2 separate regions of the Homo sapiens genome follow, and region 2 is linked to region 1. A link means that fine-mapping ties the variant in region 1 to the plasma level of a protein whose gene starts in the linked region. Region 1 holds a variant in brackets. A gene starts in the other region. All regions are shown on their reverse strands. Region 1 has its middle 17 kb from the start of MNX1-AS2. Region 2 holds the start of PPY (pancreatic polypeptide).

Evidence for each region. PIP is the chance, under the fine-mapping model, that this variant and not a neighbour inherited with it causes the effect. Protein levels are from antibody-based Olink assays in UK Biobank. Linkage for the fine-mapping came from a reference panel and not from the study's own genotypes, which makes the PIPs less certain.
Region 2: PPY starts here. The variant in region 1 is fine-mapped to the plasma level of the PPY protein (UK Biobank, PIP above 0.99).

What each region holds. Positions count from the first base shown.
Region 1 is chr7:156,983,304-156,994,780 of GRCh38, reverse strand. No RefSeq gene overlaps it. Among named protein-coding and RNA genes, the nearest start is that of MNX1-AS2, 17 kb to the left of the region's middle. The variant A/G (reference allele first, on the strand shown) is at 6,003.
Region 2 is chr17:43,932,217-43,943,499 of GRCh38, reverse strand. It overlaps PPY (pancreatic polypeptide), which reads left to right and starts at 1,024. Exons shown (of 4, transcript NM_002722.5): 1 at 1,024-1,079; 2 at 1,846-2,036; 3 at 2,286-2,357; 4 at 2,548-2,696. The coding sequence starts at 1,846. The coding sequence ends at 2,572. LINC01976 (long intergenic non-protein coding RNA 1976) reads right to left here and starts at 5,239. Exons shown (of 2, transcript NR_136406.1): 1 at 5,103-5,239; 2 at 4,538-4,939. It also overlaps LOC102724183. RefSeq lists an enhancer at 4,953-5,453.

The DNA.
Region 1 (11,477 bases):
CTCAAGCGATCCGCCCGCCTTGGCCTCCCAAAGTGCTGGGACTGCAGGCGTGAGCCACTGTGCCTGGCCAGTTTTTGGTTCTTTTTTTAACTCCCCACAGTATCCAGTGTAGAGATGGCACTGTGCCAGCCCTCCTTCCAAAGAGGCCCCCTGGCCAGAGATTTCACTTTGAAAATAAAGCCAATGCATCAATGCATCAAAACACAAGCAAGTCCTTTGATACATTTAAAGCCAGAAACACAGCCAGGCACGGTGGATCACACCGGTAATCCCAGAACTTTGGAAGGCCAAGGCGGGTGGATCACCTAAAGTCAGGAGTTCAAGACCAGCTTGGCTAACATGGTGAAACCCCATCTCTACTGAAAATACAGAAAATTAGCCAGGCATGGTGGTGCATGCCTGTAGTCCCAGCTACTTGGGAGGCTGAGGCAGGAGAATCGCTTGAACCTGGGAGGCGGAGGTTGCAGTGAGCCAAGATTGCGCCATTGCACTCCAGCCTGGGCAACAAGAGCGAAACTCGGTCTCAACAAACAAATAAATAAAAACCAGAAACACGGGCCAATTTCATCTCGCAGAAATCTTTCCCTTTGTTTTCACAGGTAAAGAAGGCACAGACACCCTCACCTCCTGCACTCTAGGCAGCTTCCAGAATTGACTAAAAATATCCCGAGAGCTTTCCAGGAAGCCGCAGGGAGCCCTCGACCTGTTTGAATCTCTGGCTGCCGGTGGATTGGCGGGTCACTCCCATGTCCCAGCTCCCGCCTGCAGGTGCCTCCAGAGATGCTGCCCTTCCGTGGCACCCCCAGGGCCCCACACCTCAAGATTTCCACGGCCTTCTCCCTTCTATCTTTGTACAACAAAGTAATTTGCTTTTAATGACCGCCGGTGTTTTCCTTCCCAGTTCTATTTGAGCAGATAATGTATCTGAGGCCTCCGCAACAGGGTTAAACCACTGTGACCCTCATAATCAGAGCACAGAAACAAATTCTATTTACTCATAAATGTGGCTGTGTCTCCAGTGTGCAGCTGCCTCCTAATCACAGATGCTGTGATAATATTTTGCTTTTATCAGACCTCTCACTCACGGGTGACAAAGTGCTTTATTATCCCATTAGGCACGGAGCGCCTCAGCTTGGCAAGGTGTTCCCACTGCGACTTCAATGGCACTTTGGGCTCCAGGCCCTGGGAAGCTCTCCGGGGTGGCAGGCTTGAGGGCACAGAGCTCCTGCCATCCGTGTGCAGAGTCGCTTCCCTCAAAGCCCCCAAGGCCGTAGGAACCAGAGGACATCGATTTGAGGGAAGCAGGGAAGGAAGGGAGCAGCTCCCAGGCGCTCCCCCGTGTCCTGGCCCGACTCCCGGACCTCCTTGAGTCCTGACCACGTGCACAGCCTGCAGCCGCCAGGGCCCAGCTCCCGCCATACCCGGACCCCCTGCTTTGGCCGTGGAATCTGCTTGGGCAGACAGAGCTCATCCGCCGCTGCCTCTCTCCTGACTCCTCAGCCCCAGTGGCTGTTTCTGCTGCTCCAGGTGCTTCCCAAGCACTCAGCTAGGAAGCTAGCGGGTCCTGGAGGCTGCAGCACCCGCCTGTCTCCGCGTGAAGATGGGGGTCCCTGCAGGTCTGGGGGCAGAACAGCTGCTCCAGCTGCCCCTAGGGAGCTGCGGCAACTCAGATTCGTCCAGGCCCTGACTCGGGGCCTGCAGAGGGGAACCCTGGAGTGAAAGACGGCAAAGTGAAAATCCCGCTCTCTCCTGGTGCCTTGCCCGTGATGCCTCAGAGTTCTGAGGAAGACCAGACCCATCCAGAACCTTCTGGGGGAACAGCCCTCTGCCCGTCCGTGTGAGCTATATTTATTTATTTGTTTATTTATTTATTTATTTAGACAGAGTCTCACTCTGTTGCCCAGGCTGGAGTGCAGTGGGGCATGATCTCGGCTCACTGCAGCATCCGCCTCCCAGATTCAAGCGATTCTCCTGCCTCAGCCTCCCGAGTAGCTGGGATTACAGGCACCTGCCACCACGCCCAGCTAATTTTTGTATTTTTAGTAGAGACGGGATTTCACCATGTTGGCCAGGCTGGTCTCGAACTCCTGACCTCAAGTTATCCGCCTGCCTTGGCCTCCCAAAGTGTTGGGATTATAGGCGTGAGCCACCGCACCCAGCCCTCATGTGAACTATTTTAACAGTGTCAACTGTTAAAATAAAAGGAAAAAAGGAACACTCATTCCTTCACACACACAGGGGTGGAGGCACAGTTCCGGAAGTGCATCTTGTGTGATATACCCGCTGTCTCTGAGCTCTGTGTTGAGTGCTCTGTGGGTGCGGCAGGACACCTGGGCCAGTGCAGCACGTCCCCGCAAGCTCCCCAGCCTACACTCCGCTGCCTAGGTGTGAGGCTCGAACACCTCCAAAACTTGATTTATCAGTGTTATTTCCACCATTGCTAAAGTAGGAAACCAGACTCCGTCGGCCCTGTTAAGTCTGATTCAGAAAACAGAGGGCCTTTAAAACCCTTTGTCCCTTGAAGTCAGAAAGGGCGAGAATACTGGCGATCTGAGGGTTGCTCCAGCTGGCTTGGGACCGGACTGACTTGCATTTCCTTCACTAATCAGAATTTTGAAGGCAAGGATAAAATAAATCTCAGATAATCACCTTGCATTTCTGATGAGTTAAATGAGTGTGTTTTACGCCCCGGTTGTATGAGCTTGCTTTTCCACACGCGGTGAGTGCCGGACAAAGACTTCCCGGGAGGTCTAGGTTTGTTGTGCTTTGTTTTTGCATCCTGTCTGATAATTAGGCCTTTGCACACATCTGTTTGGGATTGAGTCTTCCTAGGAAATCAGGGATTTGGCCAAGGCTGGGCAAAATTAAGCAATAATAATAGTAGTAATAGTAATAGAAACAGTAACAGCCTCTGTTTGATGGAGGGTGGCTGTCAGGTGCCTGCCGTGCGGTGCTGGGCTCCGAGATGTTAGGCTGGTCCTCAGAGCCTTGGGTCTTGTCTTGTACTTTGCAAGCTTTGCTTGACTTTCCATTTCAATTTTTTTTTTTTTTTTTTTTAGAATAAAGACACAGGGTCTCACTCTGTTGCCCAGACAGGAATGCAGTCATGTGATCATAGCTCCCTTGCAGCCTCGAACTCCTGGGCTCCAGGGATCCTCCATCTCAGCCTCCTGAGCCTCTGGGACCACAGTTGCATGCCACCATGTCTGGCTAATATTTTTAATTTTTGTGTAGATGCGGGGCGGGTCTCACTTTGCTGCCCAGGCTGATCTCAATCTCCTAGTTTTAAGCACTCCTCCCACCCCAGCCTCCCAAAGTGCTGGGATTCCAGGCATGAGCCACCGTGCCCGGCCAATAAAAAAGAAGCTTGCTTTACTTTCAATGAGGATAGTTCTCCTGGAGACAGCACAGATGTCCTGGATCATCCATCAGCTTTTAAGAATTACAAAATATGTAATCCCAGCACTTTGGGAGGCCGAGACAGGTGGATCACGAGGTCAAGAGATCGAGACCATCCTGGCCAACATGGTGAAACCCCCATCTCTACTAAAAATACAAAAATTAGCTGGGTGTGGTGGTGCGTGCCCGTTAGTCCCAGCTACTCAGGAGGCTGAGGCAGGAGGAGAATCACTTGAACCCAGGAGGCAGAGGTTGCAGTGAGCTGAGATCGCTCCACTGAACTCCAGCCTGGCGACAGAGCAAGACTCTGTCTCAAAAAAAAAAAAAAGAATGACAAAATCGATATTAATGTGGATGTTTGCAACAATATTCACGGCAGAATGGGGAATGAAAAGAAGAATGGATTCAGAGACCCTCCTATGTGCACTTCCATGGGAAGAGACCCAGTCTGCTCAATAAACAGGCACCCGCTCTGTCTCGATGAGAACCAACCCAATGATAGACACAGTCCTACGTCCTTTCAGGGACACAAAACCCGTCATACGTCATAAAATCCCAGGATCGGAGAGCTAGAAGTGCACTTATTCTTATCAATGTGAGGTTGCTGGCAAACCGAGCGGGACTCCTGCCCTCTAACCAAGTTGAAAATATGGGAGAAAAGGAAAAGCTGATGACAGAGACAGGCGCTGTGACTTGGTCGCGGCACCAGCCGGACCCTGTTGGTGTGACCCTGAGGCCCTGAGGCGTCACCAGTGCAGTGTCTCCTATCTCAGCACTTGTCCACAGATTTCACTAGAGCCCGCGACAGCTAGCCGGCCGCCTACCCCGTGCCTCTCCATCAGGAAGAAAGATCAGCGGAGAGAAGAACTGAGAATCATTGTCAGGGGGCCCACCCTGAGGCCAAGAGCTTGAGGCTGTGATTCTGTGGGCTCACAGGCCTGCCTGAACAGTTAGAGAGAAAGGAAATGGTAAGTTGACATGATGGGCCACAGCAGCTCAGAGTGGGTGGTGCCCTGGCTGACGGTCAGGAGGAGGCCAGACAGGTCCGGTGAGCATGGACCCTTCCAGCCCTGTTGACTGACAGGCTGACAGAGGGGCCGTCGCCTAGCTGCCAGGGGACTGCACAAGTGATGCTTAACCTTTCTACTTGCTTTTTAACTAGCGCAGGGACAAGGTAACAAAATAGGACAGGTGGTGTCATAAGAAATGACCCCAGACCTGGCTATGGGGCCACAGCGTAGCTGGAGTGGAGCTTCAAGGTTGTGCAGTTGGCGTTAGAGGCCTGCAAGCCACACCTGGGCCTTCCCGCTGCCTGCCACCCCCCAACAGGCACACAGTGCCACCAGTCCGGGAGGACGAGGGCCCAGGAAGCCTGAGGAGCCCCGCTCACTGGGAAGCCCAGGCCAGCACGGTCTCCCCGCAGGCACTGCCCAGGCCGCGTCCTCTGCACTCGCCACAGTGGACGAGGAGCCCTCGAGAGTCACAGATGAGGTCGGAGCATCGCTTTTCACCAGGCTCGCGGACCCAGGCCCTCCGGGACTACTTCAGTGGCCTAAAGATGAGCAGAGTGATCTCTGCGGGGGAGAGAGGGAGAGGGGCACAGGAAGTCTTATTTTTAATGAAGAATGACGGGACTGGAAGCTGGTCGAGAGGTGCTGTGGTGCCCTGGAGAACGCGCTCATTCCCAGGCTGCAGGCTGAGGCTACCAAGTGAAGCGTGGCCATGTCTGTACTCCAACAATCCCATCAGAACATGCATGGGTATAAATGGCTCCCTACGTAACTGTATATACACGTGTACTGAAAAACCACAGGAAAAGCAAACATGGCCAAATGTTAACTGGCAAACATAATAATAATGTAAGTGGAAGAATTTGCCCTCTTTCTTTGGAAACACTGACAAAATGAAATGAATAATCCATTCTCAATGTTTTTCTTCTTTTTTTGAGACAGAGTTTCGCTCTTGTTGCCCAGACTGAAGTGCAGTAGCGCAACCTTGGCTCACTGCAACCTCCGCCTCCCAGGTTCAAACGATTCTCCTGTCTCAGCCTCCCAAGTAGCTGGGATTACAGGTGTGAGCCACTGCGCCCAGCCCATTCTCAGTGATTTTCTATAGAAAATACCTTAAAAGCTGGTCTTGATCGTTTTTCCTTCCACCAGAGCTGAAGCTGCCCCGGCGTGGGCTTGAGACTTGGCTCTGCTTGGCGAGGCCCAGGCTCATCAGGCCTTACATCAGTGTGAGCCCCGGGCGGGAGCAGCCCTGGTGGCACTGAGTGCACGAGGGATTGACGGCTCCTTCCCCAGAGCAGGAGGGAGGGAAACACCGCGGTGGCCATGGTCAGTCGTGCTCGGAAAGGTCAGCCTTTGCTGGGGAGAGTGAGGAGGGGGCCACGGAAGTCCTGGGGCCAAGCATCGTCATCTGGACATGTCAAGGTCAGCACTGCTTAGCTCTGGCACCCGAGCCCGCCTGGCCTGTGGGACACACAGGGGCCATTGTTTCCCCAAACACACGGCCCCCGAACTCTGAACACCCCCTGCATCCTTAGGACATGTTAAACTGGCCCTGTTCCCTTTCATCATTTTACCACGCAAACATCATTTTTC[A/G]TCATTGTCCAGCTCTACTCAAGATAAGTGTCACCTTCTGGTGAACTCGGCCCCTGTGCAGCCACACCCCCCATCGGCTTCATCAGTGCAGCCTGTGATGCAACAGTTAAGGCTGAGAACAAGAAAAGCTCCCCATTCCCTGGCCAGTGTTACTGTCACTAGAAAAATCCAAGTTTTATAGCACTTTGATAACACTCTCTACACACAAGCATCCACACAGACATCCGGAGTCCTCCACGCTCAGGGAGGTACAGCGCGGCCCTCCAGAAGCCCACACACTTCAGTTACTGTTCAGTCTCTACGTGATGCTGGCTCCGTGCTGTAGAACTGCCTTCCCTGGGAGGTGTCTGAGTTGACTCTAGATGCTTCCACGGCTGGTCTGTGGCTGCTTTCACAGGGCCTCTCTCCACCCGCTGGACTCACCCGCTGCTCTGTTCTGGGGCCCCTTCCTCTCATACCTCGTTCTCCTCAAGGGACTGCACATTTTGTTGGATCCCTAGGCTGCCACCCAGAGCTGGTGTCTACATCCTTCAGCCCTGACTTCCACGGGTGCCACTAGCCCCAGAAAACGCAACGCGCCTCAGGTTGAAATCCTCCTCCTCTGAAATCTATGAGCCTCCGCCCCCTTCTCAGAGACGTTCCAAGCCTCCACTGCCCCCTCCACCCTCTCGTTTAAGGGCACCACATTCTGGCCCGGCGCGGTGGCTCACCCCTGTAATCCCAGCACTTTGGGAGGCCGAGGTGGGTGGATCACTTGAGGCCAGGAGTTCGAGACCAGCCTGGCCAACATGGTGAAACCCCGTCTCTACTAAAAATACAAAAATTAGCCGGGTGTGGTGGCGAGTGCCTGTAATCCCAGCTACTCGGGAGGCTGAGGCAGGAGAATTGCTTGAACCTGGGAGGCGGAGGTGGCAGTGAGCTGAGATCGCACCACTGCATTCTAGCCTGGGCCACATAAAAATAAATAAATAAATAAAATAATATACAAAAATAAAATAAAATAATAATACAAAATAATAATAAAATAAAATTTCCACTCTTATTTGTGGAAAAGCAAGCTCATACAACCAGGGCATAAAACACACTCATTTAACTCATCAGAAATGCAAGGTGATTATTTGAGATTTATCTTTGCCCTCAAACTTCTGATTAGTGAAGGAAATGCAAGTCAATCCAGTCCCAATAAAATAATAAAATAAAATAATAATAACATTCTGATGAGCATTCATTAGAAGCGTCTCTTGAAATCTCTATTCTCAGGCTCCCACCTTGGCCTGGGCGCTTCCCTCCTGGCCTGGGAGGTCCAAGAGCCACCGAACTGACCTCTTGTCACCAACATTCCCACGTGCCGGACCAGCCGCCATCTCTGTCCAGCAATATTTTGACAACACAGTTTTGATTATGTAACCTCTTTGATGGTTTCCTTCTGTTGAGAAGAGGACTTCACTCCTCACTCCTTCACGGTCAGGTCTCAAGTTCATCTCCTGCCTCTGAGGTGCTTTATCGTGAGGCCACCGGAGGCGCCATCCCAGGCGATCCGCACACAGAGGTCAGCTCTGCCCAGCGTGTGCCCTCAGCTCCTCCCGGAAGAGCCAGTCCCAATGACCCTGCCTCTGGAAAAGCCTTTCCCTATTGCCCTGTCCCTGCTCCAGCAGGAGGAGCTTGACTTCTGCACACTTGTACTGTGGGGCTTCTCAACGCTTCAAGCAGGGCGTCTACACCCCTGCTCCGGAGCTTCACTGCATGGTGGCCCTGAGTGGGTTCCCAGTCAAATACATCAATCCCCACTCTTATTTGGGTCCTCCTTAAAAGAGGCCTTGAGCCGATGTAACTCAGAGGCCCCACCCACACATTCACTGCACAACGTTTTTTTCTTTTTCTTTTCTTTTCTTTTTTTTTTTTTGAGACAGAGTCTCGCTCTGTCACCCAGGCTGGAGTGCAGTGGTGCAATCTTGGCTCACTGCAACCTCCGCCTCCCGGGTTCAAGTGATTCTCCTGCTTCAGCCTCCCGAATAGCTGGGACCACAGGCAGGTGCCACCACACCCAGCTAATTTTCTGTATTTTCAGTGGAGACGGGGTTTCACCGTGTTAGCCAGGATGATCTCGATCTCCTGACCTCGTGGTCCACCTGCCTTGGCCTTGCAAAGTGCTGGGATTACAGGTGTGAGTCACTGCACCTGGCCTGTACAACATTTATTACAGTCAAAAGCGAATTACAGAAAGGGCGAGACTCCAGAGACAGATGTCAGCTGAATCCTAACACGCAGCTAACATTGCAAGCTCAACCCACAGCAACCTTTTTGCCATGAAAGCTCTCATTTTAATGTTGTTCCTCTTAACAGGACTTGACAATAAAGATGGGGCAACCAGAGGAAAAGTGAAGCAAAAGAAAGTTGGCTGGGTGAGGTGGCTCATGCCTGTAATCCCAGCACTTTGGGAGGCTGAGGAGGCAGATCACCTGAGGTCAGGAGTTTGAGACCAGCCCAGGCAACATGGTGAAACCCCATCTCTACTAAAAATATAAAAATTAACTGAGTGATAGTGGTGGACACCTGTAATCCCAGCTACTCAGGAGGCTCAGACAGGAGAATCACTTGAACCCCGGAGGCAGAGGTTGTGGTGAGCCAAGATTGCTCCATTGCACTCCAGCCTGGGCGACAGAGAGAGACTCTGTCTCAAAAAAAAAAAAAAAAGAAAAAAAAAATCATTCCAGAAGCTCCCTGATGAACTAGAATATCAACCAGGGCACTGCATAACCCCAGTGTCATGTTCTGGTCACCTGTCGGCATTCAGTGCAGAAGGCAGAGCCACTCTCGTTATTGCCGCAGAGGCATCTGGCAGGGGAGTGAGACGTGATGAGAGACGCTGGGTCTCCAGGGCAACTTGCAGGACAATTTGCTGGACGGGATGCTCCAGCCGCTGGGCCTGGACTGGCTGGGTGGGAGAATCTGCCCCTCAAGTGAGGCCCCGCCCCCAGTGCCTCTCCAGGCAGCTGGTGCAGCCTGGGCCTGCCACAGAGGAGCTCTGCATGCCCACAACTGTGGGCCAGGCATGGAGGCGGTGGGCACGTCTGCCTCACCTTCCAGATGTGCGTATGCAGCTAACGTGCAGCCCTCACCACATCTGGAGTTCTCCAGTGCCGGGGTCTGAGCACGTCGTGGTCTTCTCCAGCAGCAGATGCAGGAGCAGCAGGGATGTGGGAAGGAGGCGCCGCACCCAGGGGCCCCGTCTGCTGTTCCCACACCAGGGCCCTGCCGTCGTGCAGATGCAGCCTCTCTGCTCTGCCCACCCAGCTGCCACCGATGGACCTGTGCCCAGCCTTCTCCTGGCCCTCCGCCCCAGGGCTCCTGCTCACAGCCTTCACTCTATGCCTCCCTACCTGGGACCCGGCTGCACAGCCGCTTCCTACACCCCTACCCAGAGGGGGCGTCTGACCAGCTTTATGAGACCCTGGCCCCTCTGGGTGCCACTGTTGAATGGAGCTCCTCGGCCACGACTGGCCGGCTGCCTGGAACAGGGTGCTTTGGGGCCCTTCCCCTGTCCCTGGTCCAGTCAGTGCAGCCAGGCCAGAGAACACTAAGCCTGCTGCCTGTGTGAGCAGAGCCAGCGCTGGGGACACCGAGGCTTCCTGGGGTCAGCAGGGTCCCTGACAGGCACTGCCACAGTGGGGAGCATGGGACTGGGGAGAGGTGTGAGTATCCCAGACCTCAGGTACACCAGGCTCACTGTCATGGGATCCCAAGAGAACGATGAACATTAAAACCAGTATATTAACAAGAAGAATATATAAATATAATACAAAAACCAGTATAACTGCTATTCTTTAGGACTGAGGTTCTCAGAGCGCTTCACCTCATTTAATCTCCGCAAAGCCCCTCTGAAATGGTAGACAGAAGTGGTAAACAGCTGGGCCGGGCCATGGGAAACGCCCGTTCTGGACAGCGAGGTCCCCATTAGCCAGCCTTGATCAGCAGCACCTGACACAGAAGGGCCCCGGTTGTTACTCACGTGTAATTGAAACCATAACAAGCCACGCAGCCACTTCTATTGGTAATAAACCACATTCCAAAAGCTGTGGCACAACAGAGGCCCTCATCTGGTTTATTGTGAAACAGGAATATTTGGAATTTAAAAGCCTAGTTGTTCTGGAACGTGTCAGAAGAAGGAAACATTTTCACAGGCAGCACGCAGTAAAACATCATAAATATAACAGATTGTTAAAGATCATTTACAAATTTATGAATAAGGCTAGAGGGAGGACCCAAATGAAATACAAACAGAAACAAACAACGCTCTCTGCGTTTCAGAGAAGGGGAAAAATGAAACTTGGAACAGTCTGTGCTTTCTCTCCACGTCCAATGCCAGGACAGAAGGAGCTACAAACACATCTTGAAGTAATCATGCTTGTTTTTCCAAGTTGTATGGTTTTGGCAATTCTAAAACTACTTTCTGCATATTAGAGGACTGAGCAAATAAGTAAATGTGTTTATCATGCTGAAAGACAGGTTTCTTACAGCTGGGAAAGGCTAGCCACAGCCCTAAATGCTGCGTGAGAATGGGAGTGGTCCGTGACAATTTGGTTTTCAATACAGAGAAGCATGTGTGCAGATGTATTATATATGATACACACACAGTTTATATGTGCAGATATATATGATACACACACAGTTTATATGTGCGGATATATATGATACACACAGTTTATATGTGCAGATGTATTATATATGATACACACAGTTTATATGTGTAGATATATGATACACACACAGTTTATATGTGTGGATATATATGATACACACATTTATATGTGCAGATGTATTATATATGATACACACAGTTTATATGTGCAGATATATATGATACACACACAGCTTATATGTGCAGATATATGATACACAGTTTCTATGTGCAGATGTATTATATATGATAGTTTATATGTGCAGATGTATTATATGATACACACAGTTTATATGTGCAAATATATATGATACAGTTTATATGTGCAGATATACATGACAGTTTATATGTGCAGATGTATTATGATACAGTTTATATGTGCAGATGTATTATATATGATACAGTTTATATGTGCAGATATATGATAGTTTATATGTGCAGATATGATAGTTTATATGTGCAGATATGATAGTTTATATGTGCAGATGTATTATATATGATACAGTTTATATGTGCAGATGTATTATACACAATTTATATGTGCAGATTATATATGATACACACACAGTTTATATGTGCAGATATATGATATAGTTTATATGTGCAGATGTATATATGATAGTTTATATATGCAGATGTATTATATGATAGTTTATATGTGCAGATATATGACACAGTTTATAAGTGCAGATGTATTATATATGATACACAGTTTATATGTGCAGATGTATTATATATGATACAGTTTATATGTGCAGATGTATTATATATGATAGTTTATATGTGCAGATGTATTA
Region 2 (11,283 bases), not on the chromosome of region 1:
TGAGAATCTAAGCCAGAATTCGGAACCTCGGTAGCTATGAGATCTTGAGCAAGCGTCTTTACCTCTGTGAGCCTCAGGTTTCTCAGCCAAAAAGTGGGAAATTATAACAATACTTTGACGGCCCCACTTAGGAAAAAAAACAGTCCAGGTTTGGAGTTAAATTTTGGGGTCTGACTGGCTGTGGGGTTTGGGGCCAGTGATTTGACATCTCTGAGCAGATTTCAGATCCTGAATCTGTAAAATGGGTTGTTGTGGGGATTTAGTGAGGTGACTGAGCTGGCAGCACTTTGGAAAATGTGAGGCTTTACAAATGAAGCTGGTTTTTAGCACTTCCCTGGAATGGGGGCTCTGAGATGGGGAGGGAAATGGATACTGGAAACCGGCACCCCCCTCAACATTTCCCCTGAACCCAGGCACATGAGTTCTCATTCTGCATCCTATGCACCCACCAAATGGGTTTCTCCAAGCCTGGCACCCCACTCCTTTCCACCTTGCCTGAGGACCTGAGGCCCCTTCCCTCTTCCCACCTTGTTCTAGTTGCAAGCTGCAGAGGATGGCCTGAGTTTCCATTCTTCAGCCTGGAGGCTCTGGCTGTAGCCTCAGTCTTCCAGCTGCAGCCTCAATCTTCTGCCCCAAGAGAATCCGTTGGATGATTTGGGTTGATCTTTGGGAGGCAGGAGAGCTAGTTCCAAGGCCTGTGACCAAAACCTTTCAGTCACTCTCGAGTCCCAGAACCCCATCTTTCTTGAACCAAGCCTGCTCTGGTGCCCAAAGGGAAGGGGTGTCAGTGATGGGGGCCCACAGGAGACTTTTACTGTGGTCCAGTTTTATCTGTTATGCTGCTGGTCTGGCACCCACAGAACTGCCCTGTCCCCCTCCCGTCTCTGGCCTCAGTACTGGCGTTGCCAGTATGAGGAGACAGTGAGAGGAGGGGTGAGGGCTTCGGAGTGAGAGAGGCTGACAGGAGGCGGGGACTCTGGGGGGCTGAGGACTATAAAGCGGCCCAGCCGAGGGCAGGGGCCCATCCGGCCTGAGGCAGGTGCTCGCTTGGTCTAGTGCCCATTTACTCTGGACTCCGGGTAAGTGGGCTCAGCCTGCCTGGGGCTCTGGGGGCCTCCCCCAGGCTGGGGCCTGGGATGGAGAGGAGGTGGTGCTTTGCAGGGCCAGGGGCCTTGGGAGGCCTAAGGTCCTGCTTGGGTCTTGCTTTCTGCATCTGGACAGACCTGTCACGCTAGAAGAGCCGTCTGCTGACTGCACGTGTGTGTGCACACTCGTGTGCATGGCTGTGAACTGGAATGTGTGACTGTGACCTTGTGAGTGACTGGGGTCCCTGTGTGAGTGCCTTTGCTGGTCTGTGCAGGACGACATGGACAGTAGCGTCTTCTCCAGGACCGATATCTGTGTCTCTATCGCAGGGTGGAGGGCCAGACCCACAAGGCCATGGATTTCTGTCCTTGGCTTCCCGAGTTCATTCTGTGTCCCCCACCCTGTGGGTGACCTGGCATGCCCTTATTCCCACTAGCTGCTGCCTCCTGGGAGCCATGAGGCCCTGGATGTCATGAGTCCCGTGTCTCCAGGACTCACATCCCCATTTTCTCTGCTATACTTTTCTAACTTGCGAGGCCCTGGCTTGCTGGGCTGCTCACAGGACAGGCTGTCCGTGCCTTCAGAGCAGTGTCTAGGAGGTGGAGTGGCCAGCTTGGAGTGGCCCTTTGCTCTGCCCCCTTGTCCCCAGGCTTGGAGAAATGGATGATGGGCTAAGGGGCTGGATAGTTGGGCCCTGCTTCCTGGGCACGGGAAAATCTGCAGCCCGGGCTCTCCACCTCCCCTCTGCTTGCTCCTCAGATGGCTGCCGCACGCCTCTGCCTCTCCCTGCTGCTCCTGTCCACCTGCGTGGCTCTGTTACTACAGCCACTGCTGGGTGCCCAGGGAGCCCCACTGGAGCCAGTGTACCCAGGGGACAATGCCACACCAGAGCAGATGGCCCAGTATGCAGCTGATCTCCGTAGATACATCAACATGCTGACCAGGCCTAGGTGTGTGCCACAGTTGGGGAGAGAGATCCCAGCCCCTGGGACCCTGGGCCCACTCCACATTCCTGGCCACACCCTATCCCCAGCCCCAGCCCCAGCCCCTTCCAGGCCTGCTCTTGGGAAAACAGGGCATCTGTGCTCAACAGGCCTAGACCAATGTGCCCTGGGCAAGATGGTGCCTACAGGCAGATATGAAACAGGTGGGCTGGCACCTGGGCACAGTGCTTGCCCCTGCTGCCTCTTCCCTCCCAGGTATGGGAAAAGACACAAAGAGGACACGCTGGCCTTCTCGGAGTGGGGGTCCCCGCATGCTGCTGTCCCCAGGTGAGTTTGACTCCCTGCCCTGTCTGTCCAGCTCCCTGGAGCTGAAATGGGGGTGGTGGGACTGAATCAGGGCTTGGAAAGGTGTAGTGGGGGGTGGAAGAGGGAGAACAGGAGCCCAGGGCCAGCCTGAGGCCTCCTGAGGGCACGAGGCCTACCCCCTACACTGCCATGTTCTGCCCTGTCCTCACAGGGAGCTCAGCCCGCTGGACTTATAATGCCACCTTCTGTCTCCTACGACTCCATGAGCAGCGCCAGCCCAGCTCTCCCCTCTGCACCCTTGGCTCTGGCCAAAGCTTGCTCCCTGCTCCCACACAGGCTCAATAAAGCAAGTCAAAGCCACAGCCTGTCCTGTGTCTCTGTGGACCCCTGGTGGGGGCAGCAGGAAGTGCCAAATGCATGGGAGAGAAAGGGGAGGGCAGGGCAGGGCAGAGGAAAAGGGGATCATCCAGAACGTTGGCGGGGGTCATCAGAGTCACTCAACTCATCCTCTCCCCTTCGCAGAGGGAAAAGTGGTGGCCAGAGGAAGGCAGGGACTCCTCTGAGCAGATGGTCCTTCAGCAAGTCTGTGAAGTGGCAGTCTTGAATCTTCCCAGTTCAGTACCCATAGACCTTCCCGACACAGCCTGATGACAACCCTTCCCCAAGTGCACCCCTCACCAGTGCCTTACTGCAGCCTAGGCAGCAGAAGCACCAAAATTTATACGAAAGCACCCTTGGCATGGGGGCAGGGGCACAGCCCAGCCTGGAAGAACGATTCTGGTGCTATGGCAGTCATGGCTGCATCCAGGGGCCTGAGCTGCCGTCCAGAAATTTGGAGAGAATGGGCTGCCCTGAGAGGTAGTGAAGTCCTGGGCACAGGAGGTATTCAAGCTGCTGTGGAAGGGGAGGAGGCTAGATTAGCTGAGAGTTCCAGCCACCATGAGTTGAATCTGTAGATTGTACACTCCAGCCCTGGGAGGACAAGGACCTGGATCCTGCCCCAGGGAGGACTTCCCAGATTCCCAGAGAACCCATCTTTTCCTGGCCCTTCTCAGGCACCCTGAATAGGTGGGGACAGTGCGCGTGTGCATGCGTGTGTACGCGCATGTGTAAAGGGGAGAAGTGAGGGAACTAGAATGTTTCTGGTTCCTAGAAAGGCTTCTCCTGCCTCCCCCACATGCTTGGTCTCAAGGGATGGGGTTATGGGTTTGGAGGATGAGGGGTCCACTTTCCTGGGCTCAGCACCTTGCACAGAAATGGAAATGACACACAATTGTGTTTCCCCTCAAGTCCTACTCCATCTGGTGTGTGCAAATGACCTGGAAGTAGAAACAGGTCCTAAAAGGCAAAGAGCTTCTAGAGGATGCAGCTGCTTGGCTCAGATTGATTTTTTGTTTGTTTTTGGAGACAGGATCTTGCTCTGTCACCCAGGCTGGAGTACAGTGGCATGATCACAGCTCACCATAGCTTTGACCTCCTGGGCTCAAGCGATCCTCCTGCCTCAGCCTCCCAAACAGCTGGAACTACAGGCACATGCCACCACACCCAGCAAATTTTTTTATTTTTTAGAGACAGGGTCTTGCTATGTTGCCCAGCATGGTCTTAAACTCCTGGGCTCCAGCGATCTGCTCACCTCGGCCTCCCAAAATGCTGGGATTACAGGTGTGAGCCACTGTGCCCAGCCTCAGGTTGATTCTTAAATCCAAAGATGTCTGGATAGAGAGATGGTTTCGCAAAAGAACGGTTTGAGTCTGGGAGAGGGAGCCTGAAGTCCCAGCATTTTCTCTGGCAGCTTAAGGGGATGCGCGGTGAATGGGGAGAGGAGTCTGGGCTGTTTGGTAGAAACTTGAGCCAGGTGGGAGTTGGGGTGTGTCTAGCTGAAGCCCCTTCTTTGAGGTTTCTTCTCTCACCTCTGCTCTCCCTCTGGGTTAGAGCCCCCCACACTGGTGCTGTCTGTGCAGGACTACAGGGGCAATAAGTGTCTTCTCCAGGACCCGTATCTGTGTCTCTACCACGGGGTGGAGGGCCAGACCCACAAGGCCATGTGTGGGTGGAGTGGGGGAAGGTGGATGGGTTGCCAGGGGAGGCAGGGGAGGACCCCCAACAGCTGAGGTCTTTTTCTCTCACAGCAGAAACTACAGGGTCCCACTTCCCGTTCCATGGACTGGTCCCTCCCTGCCCGCAGGCCCACAGAAGTCACTGAAGCAACAAAAATTTGTCTTTATTGTTTTCACTGAGGGGATGAGGAGGGGTCGAGGCCCCTCTCAATACAAAGGGGTTGGTGGGCAGAGAGGCGTCTGGAGGCCAAGGCCCAGCCTGGAGAAAGAAGCCCCCCCCACAGGGGTGCTGTGTCTCCCCGCATGCCCGCCCCCAGGAACTTCCTCTCGCTAGCACCCAAGCTGCCCCCAGCCCCGAGGCCCCTGGCTCGGTGCCCAGCATCCAGGCTGTCCTACCTGGGGCCCCGGGAGGAGGTCGGTGGTCGGGGTTCCGAGGTGTTCAGCCACTGGGGGTTCGTGGTGGTCCATGGTGGGGGTTTCGTGGCTTTTGATGGGGAGGTGTCCGTGGCGTTCGCAGTTTTCTTGTGGTTTTTAGATTTCTTCGGGCTGGGAACAAGTCTTTGCAGTCATGAGGCCGCTCCCCGAGCCCAGCTCAGGCCGCGATGTGCGTGGGGGTGCCTGGTGGCGTCCGTGTCCCCCCCCCGCGCCCCCCCCACCCCCCGCTTTCCTCCCTCCCTCCCTCCCTTCCTCACACCCTCCGCCGGCCCACCTGCTGTTGAAGAGCTTCCCCAAGTACTTCTTGATGGAGCCTAAGTTCAGCCAACTGGCGGCCCTGGGCTGCGGCACTTGCAGCTCCTCGCCGAGGGCGCCCTCGGGCTGCATCAGCAGCGACACGAGGCCCGCTATGGCCAGAGCGAATGCGCAGCGCAGAGCAGGCGTCTGGAGGGGGCGGGGCAGACAGAGCCGCGGGAGGTCACGTGATGCCGGGGCTGTGGTCAGCGCGGCACCCGGACCGGAGCTTGCAGGTGTTCCGCGCGGTGGGCAGGCTGGGGTGCAGGGGCGCTCAGACCGAGGGTCGTGTCTATTTCTGGGACACACACCAGAGCACGGACGCCTTAAGGGACATCCTGGTGCTCGGAGGAATGGTACACACCTGGACATGCCCGGTGATGCAGGCAGAGCATCGAGGCGCGGTGGCTCACGCCTGTAATCCCAGCACTTTGGGAAGCCGAGGCGGGCGGATAACCTGAGGTCAGGCGTTCAAGATCAGCCTGGCCAACATGGCGAAACCCCGTCTCTACTAAAAATACAAAAATTAGCCGGGCGTGGTGGTGGGCGCCTGTAATCCCAGCTACTCTGGGGGCTGAGGCAGGATAATTGCTGGAACCCGGGAGGTGGAGGTTTTAGTGAGCCGAGATTGCGCCACTGTACTCCACCCTGCCCAACAGAGCCAGACTTCGTCTCAAAAAAAGAAAAAAAAAAAAAAGAAAAAGAAAAAAAAAAAAAAAAAAACGAACGAGGAGACACACCCTAAGGTGGACGCATGAGGACGGCATAAAGCCATTGGTCAGCTCCCTAACCTCACTGCCCTCTCTCCCGCAAACTCCTTGCTTATCCCCCTCCTTTCTCCCTGCTGTTCCCGCAAAATGACGGTCACTCTGTTCTCTGCCTGGAAGACTCTTCCTCCAGACATCCTCATGGCCAGCTCTGTCTCCCCTTGTAAGCATTAGCTCAAAATCCACCTTTTAAATGGATCCTACCCTGACACCCCTATTTATAATTGCAACCTGGCCGGGCGCGGTGGCTCACGCCTGTAATCCCAGCACTTTGGGAGGCCGAGGTGGGAGGACTGCTTGAGCCCATGAGTTCAAGACTAGCTTGGGCAAAAGACAGAGAGCCCCGTCTCTACGATTTAAAAAAATAAATAAATAAAATAATATTGCAACCAAACCCCTCATCTTGCTCTTTTTCTTGCTCTATTTTTGCCCTATTTTTTCTTTTCTTTCTTTTTATTTTATTTTATTGTTTTAAGGCAAGGCCTTCTTTTGCCTTCCAGGCTGGAATGTAGTGTCGGGATCATAGCTCACTACAGCCTCAAACTCCTGGGCTCAGGCCATCCTTTTGCTTCAGCCTCCCAAGTAGCTAGGTCTACAGGTGCATACAATCATGCCCAACTAAATTTTAATTTTTTGTAGAGATGGAGTCTTGCTATGTAGCCCAGGCTGGTCTCAAACTCCTGGCCTCATGAGATCCTCCCGCCTCACCTCCCAAAGTTCTGAGATTACAGGTATGAGCCGCCACACCTGGCCTGCACTTTCTAACTTACTATATTCTATACTTATATTTGTTGTCTGAGTCCCTTCCCAGCGGCATATCCTCCCTCAATGTAAGCATCATTAATTACAGCTGGGCTCTTCGCCTATTTTGTCTATTGATGGATCACAAGCACCTAGAATGGTGCCTGGCACTTAGCAGATACTCAGTAATACATATTAAATGAATGACTAACAGTTACACACAGGAAAGCCAGCCTGAGGATTCACACACCCAATGCACAGAGAATTTTGTGCCTGCAACACACAATGATTCACAGACTATGATGCCCGTAAACATGATGCACACTCCCAGAGCTCCTAGGCCCCTCAACCCTCTTTTAACCAGGAACTCTCCTCATCCCCACCACCCCAAGCAGGAATAAGAAGCCCTAGTAGCTATCCTGGCCATCAGAATGGCAGACGAGGCTGCCCTGGCCTAACTCCTTCATGCCCTTAGTGGGCCTGAGGAGGGGCCCTTGGTGCCAGCCCCCATCCCCAAGCTCTTAGAGAATACAGCTGATGGGGGCCCAGACTTGGCCACCAGACATCACCATGGTGCTGGGCAGGTGCAGAGGAGCTCAGCAGAGTGTCTCTGGCCAGGACCTGAGGCCCTTTATATTCCTAAGCATCCCTGCCCCCTTTCCCTCTGAGGCTCCACTCCCAGCATAGCCTTCTTTTCCTCCCTGTGTCGTGACCTGAAAGTCCGGAACGGAGAGAAGGTGGGGGTGGAAGCACATGGGCTACCAGCTGTTCTGACCAGGTCACAGTCCCTGCCGGGGGCCCAGAAGTGTGGGTAGCAGAGGCAGGGAGGCGTGGGGTGTCGGGTAACTTTTTGCTCCAAGTACACAGATCCTAGGGAGAAACTGGCTCTGGGCTTGAGAGGGGGCTGTGCTTTTCCCAGGGGTTACTGTCAGGGTTTGGAAGGGGGTTATGCTGAGACCAGATGCCCCTCCCCATCTGGCTAGATCCAAGGTGCCTCTGCCTCCTTCTCCTGCAGGGTTACTTTGGGATCCCAGCACCCCTATTCCCTCCCCCTAGGCCCGCTGCCATGGGGAGGGGGTGGAGTTGCAGTTTCTGGTTTCAGGATTGCAGGCCCCGCTGCACAACCTGGAGATTTTCTCAGCCTGCCTGGCCATTTTGGAGCCCCTGAGGCATGACCTGCTGAGCCTTCTGGAGGGTGGTGGGTCTTGGCTGCTTGGATGATGGACTTAGGCCTTGGCTGCCTCAGGCCACAGAGCCTCAGCTGTGTGGCCTGTCAGGTCCCCTCTACCTCCTCAATATTGCTGCTTTTATGGGGCAAGGTTGTAAAATGTGCACCAATTCTTCATGCCCACACCAACCCCAGAAGGGGCACAGTAGGAAGAGCAGGGGCTTCTGGGTAGGAATCCTGACTTCACTCCCTCCTGGCTGTGTGACCTTGATTAGGGGACATTATCTCCCCTGAGCCTCCACATCCTCATCTGTGAAATGGAGCTGGTTAAATCCTGGCATAGGACTGTCGTGAAGATGGAGTTGGGTGATGTAACTCAGCCTCTGGGCAGCTCCTGGCACATGCTAGGTGATTAACAGGCGTGAGAGCCCCTCCACTCATAGAAGAACCCCCCCCAACCTTTTTTTTTTTGAGATGGAGTCTCACCCTATCGCTCATACTGGAGTGCAGTGGCATGATCTCGGCTCACTGCAGCCTCTGCCACCCAGGTTCAAGCGATTCTCCTGCCTCGGCCTCCTGAGTAGCTGGGATTACAAGTGCTTGCCACCGTGCCGTACTAATTTTTGTATTTTTAGTAGAGATGGGGTTTCACCATCTTGGCCAGGCTGGTCTTGAACTCCTGACCTCGTGATCCACCCACCTTGGCCTCCCAAAGTGCTGGGATTACAGGCGTGAGCCACCACACCCGGCCTTAAAAGAACCCCTTTCTCCCATCTCCACTTCTCCCGAAAGTGTCTCATCTTCTGGCCTCTTCTCCTTATTAAAACTTGCCCTCGGCCAGGCATGGTGGCTCATGCCTGTAATCCCAGCACTCTGGGAGGCTGAGGTGAGAGGATCACTTGAACCCAAGAGTTTGAGAGTAGACTGGGCAACATACTGAGACCTTGTCTCTACAAAAAAAATTTTAAAAGCCAGGTGTGGTGGCATGTGCCTGTGGTCCCAGGTACTGGGGAGGCTGAGGTGGGAGGATTGCATGAGCCTGGGAAATTGAGGCTGCAGTGAGCCAGGATCACACCACTGCACTCCAGCCTGGGTGACAGAGCAAGACCCTGTCTCAAAACAACAACAAACAAACATACAAACCAACCCTGCTCTCAGTGGGGGTGAGAAATTCAATGTCAATGTCAATATCACTGAAGTTTATGGGATGGCTCAGTAGCCAAGTGAGACCAGGACCGCATTTCTACGCAGCCAAGAATCTCTAGAAAAAGAAATGAAATTCCCATGATAAATTTCCATAGTACAGGTGGGAGGAGATATCTGGGGACCAGTGTACCCTAAATACCAGCAAACAGGCTATTCCTTATCCCCATTTGTCACAGCCCAGTGTTGAAGAGCTCAAGAGCTCAAACCATGTGTCCCTTTGCAGCCTTGGCTGCCCTTACAAACCCAGGCTTTTCTGCAGGCACTGAAGGCTCTCAGCCCCTTGCTCTTCCAGACTCTCTTACTCATTCCAGGAACTGTAGAAGGGTATGGGGAGGGAGGAAAGGGGGAAGAGAGGAAAGGAAGAAGCTCAGACGCTGCCTGCTGCTCTCTGAGGGCAGGAGGCGGTAGTGGTAGCCCTGCAATGGGCAGGATGAGGGAATGTGGCTTGAGGACACAACTCCGGGTGGGTCTCCCTGTCAACTGCCCCTTAAACTCTGACTGCGAGTTCCCACTTAAATGGAACTTCCAAATTCACTGTGGAGGACATGCCCAAATTCCCAGAGGGCAGCAGGCCAGGGGCTATGGCCTCCACTTCTCAGAGAAGAACACTGAGATGCAAAGAGAAGCTACGCAGATACCTGGTGCCACCACAGCTGGGGCTAAACCCGCCATTTTGACTCCAAGTCAGTGTGTGACCATTTGGATCGGCCTATTTCTGAGGCCGCTGAGATAAGCGCCGGGGGCTTCCTGTGATGCATGATGGTTCTCAAATATCATTCTCTGCTACCCACTGTGGAATAGACCCAATGATAGAGTGACCTTGAGTCTCCTGGCTGACTTGCCCCAGACTGACCATCCCACCCACTCCGGGACCACCGCTACTCCTTTCTGCTGGGTGTGGCCCAAAGCTGTCCTCCCACCGGCTCACTACTTCCTACCTGCCCTCAGTGCATCTGGGTGCTAGTGATGTCCTGAGAGAGGCCATCAGCTTGACTGCTGACAGTGGAGAGCAGCTGGCCTAGGAGAGGCCTGGCTGCCCTGTACAGCATCACTGCATTTTTTAAAAAAATGTCCCATCAAAGCCCTTTCCCCTTGGTGAGGGAGTCACATGGTGACCTGTGTTCTCCCTTCTAGACTGCATGCTTCCCAAGGGCAGCTGGGGTCTTGTTCAGCTCTGAACCTCCAGCATCTAGCACAGTGCCTGGCTTACTGTGGGCCTCCATGGATGCTTAGTGGGTGGGTGGAGGTGGGAGGGAGGCAGGAAGAAGGGAGGGAGGTAGAATGGGAGTGGAAGGGAGGGAGGGACTGATGGATCAATGGATGTGATGAACAAAGGGACAGCTAAAGGAGTGAACAAATGCATGGCCTGGCTCATGTCATGGGTCCTGGAACCCGCTGCTGCCTGTCCTCATGTCTTCATGTGCCTTGTTTCGCATGTGTGTGTGAAGAGGCAGAGGAAGGTAACTAGGGGACCCCCCTCTCATCTGTGGGCTCCTCCAGGACCGGACTTGTGTCTCCTCTTCTCTTGGATCTTCCTTGCTCCTCTGCTCCCCGAAACCTGAGGCTGGGCCACACCTGGTCTTCAACTGCCCCTCATTAATCCCGGGACTCTTCTCATATGGAACCGTGCTAGGGTAGCAAGGGCAGTGTGTTCTGGGCACAGGGTCCAGGGGAGAGGAAAAGGCAGCCTCTCCCAGCCTCCTCCTCCTCCCAGAAGCCTTCTTCCCCCGCGCCCCCAGCCCTCCTCCTCCCATAGCCCTCCTCCCCACCTCACTTGAGCAGGCCCCTCCTACCCTCCAAGCTGTAGTTCCAGCGCTCATGCCGGAACTGGAACTGGCACTCCAGGCCGAGGTGCATGGCGTCCCACAGGGTCTCAGCCAGGCTGGGCTCCCTCCCGCAGAGCTGCTTCTGCTGCCGGGACAACTTCAGCAGGTCACACTGCTTCAGGTGGGCCCTGCCCTGTGCTGGGGCCACCGCAGTGCCCAGTCCTGGGAAGGGCATCAGGACCTCCCACCTGGTCAGGCTGGAGACGGCGAGAGGACAGAGACGGGTGAGCCTTGGGGATGGTGGTGAGGGGCAGGTGAAGGGAAGGGAGCCTCCTTGGGTGCCCCCAGTGTGGGTGGAATATACATCATTTCAGGGCTCACCCCAAAAGAAGTAACCCCGTTCTGGGACATCCTGGGCTCCTAGCCAGGGTAAAAGAGCAAAGGTGGGCGAGGTGCGGTGGCTCACACCTGTAATCCCACCACTTTGGGAGGCCAAGGCAGGCGGATTGCTTG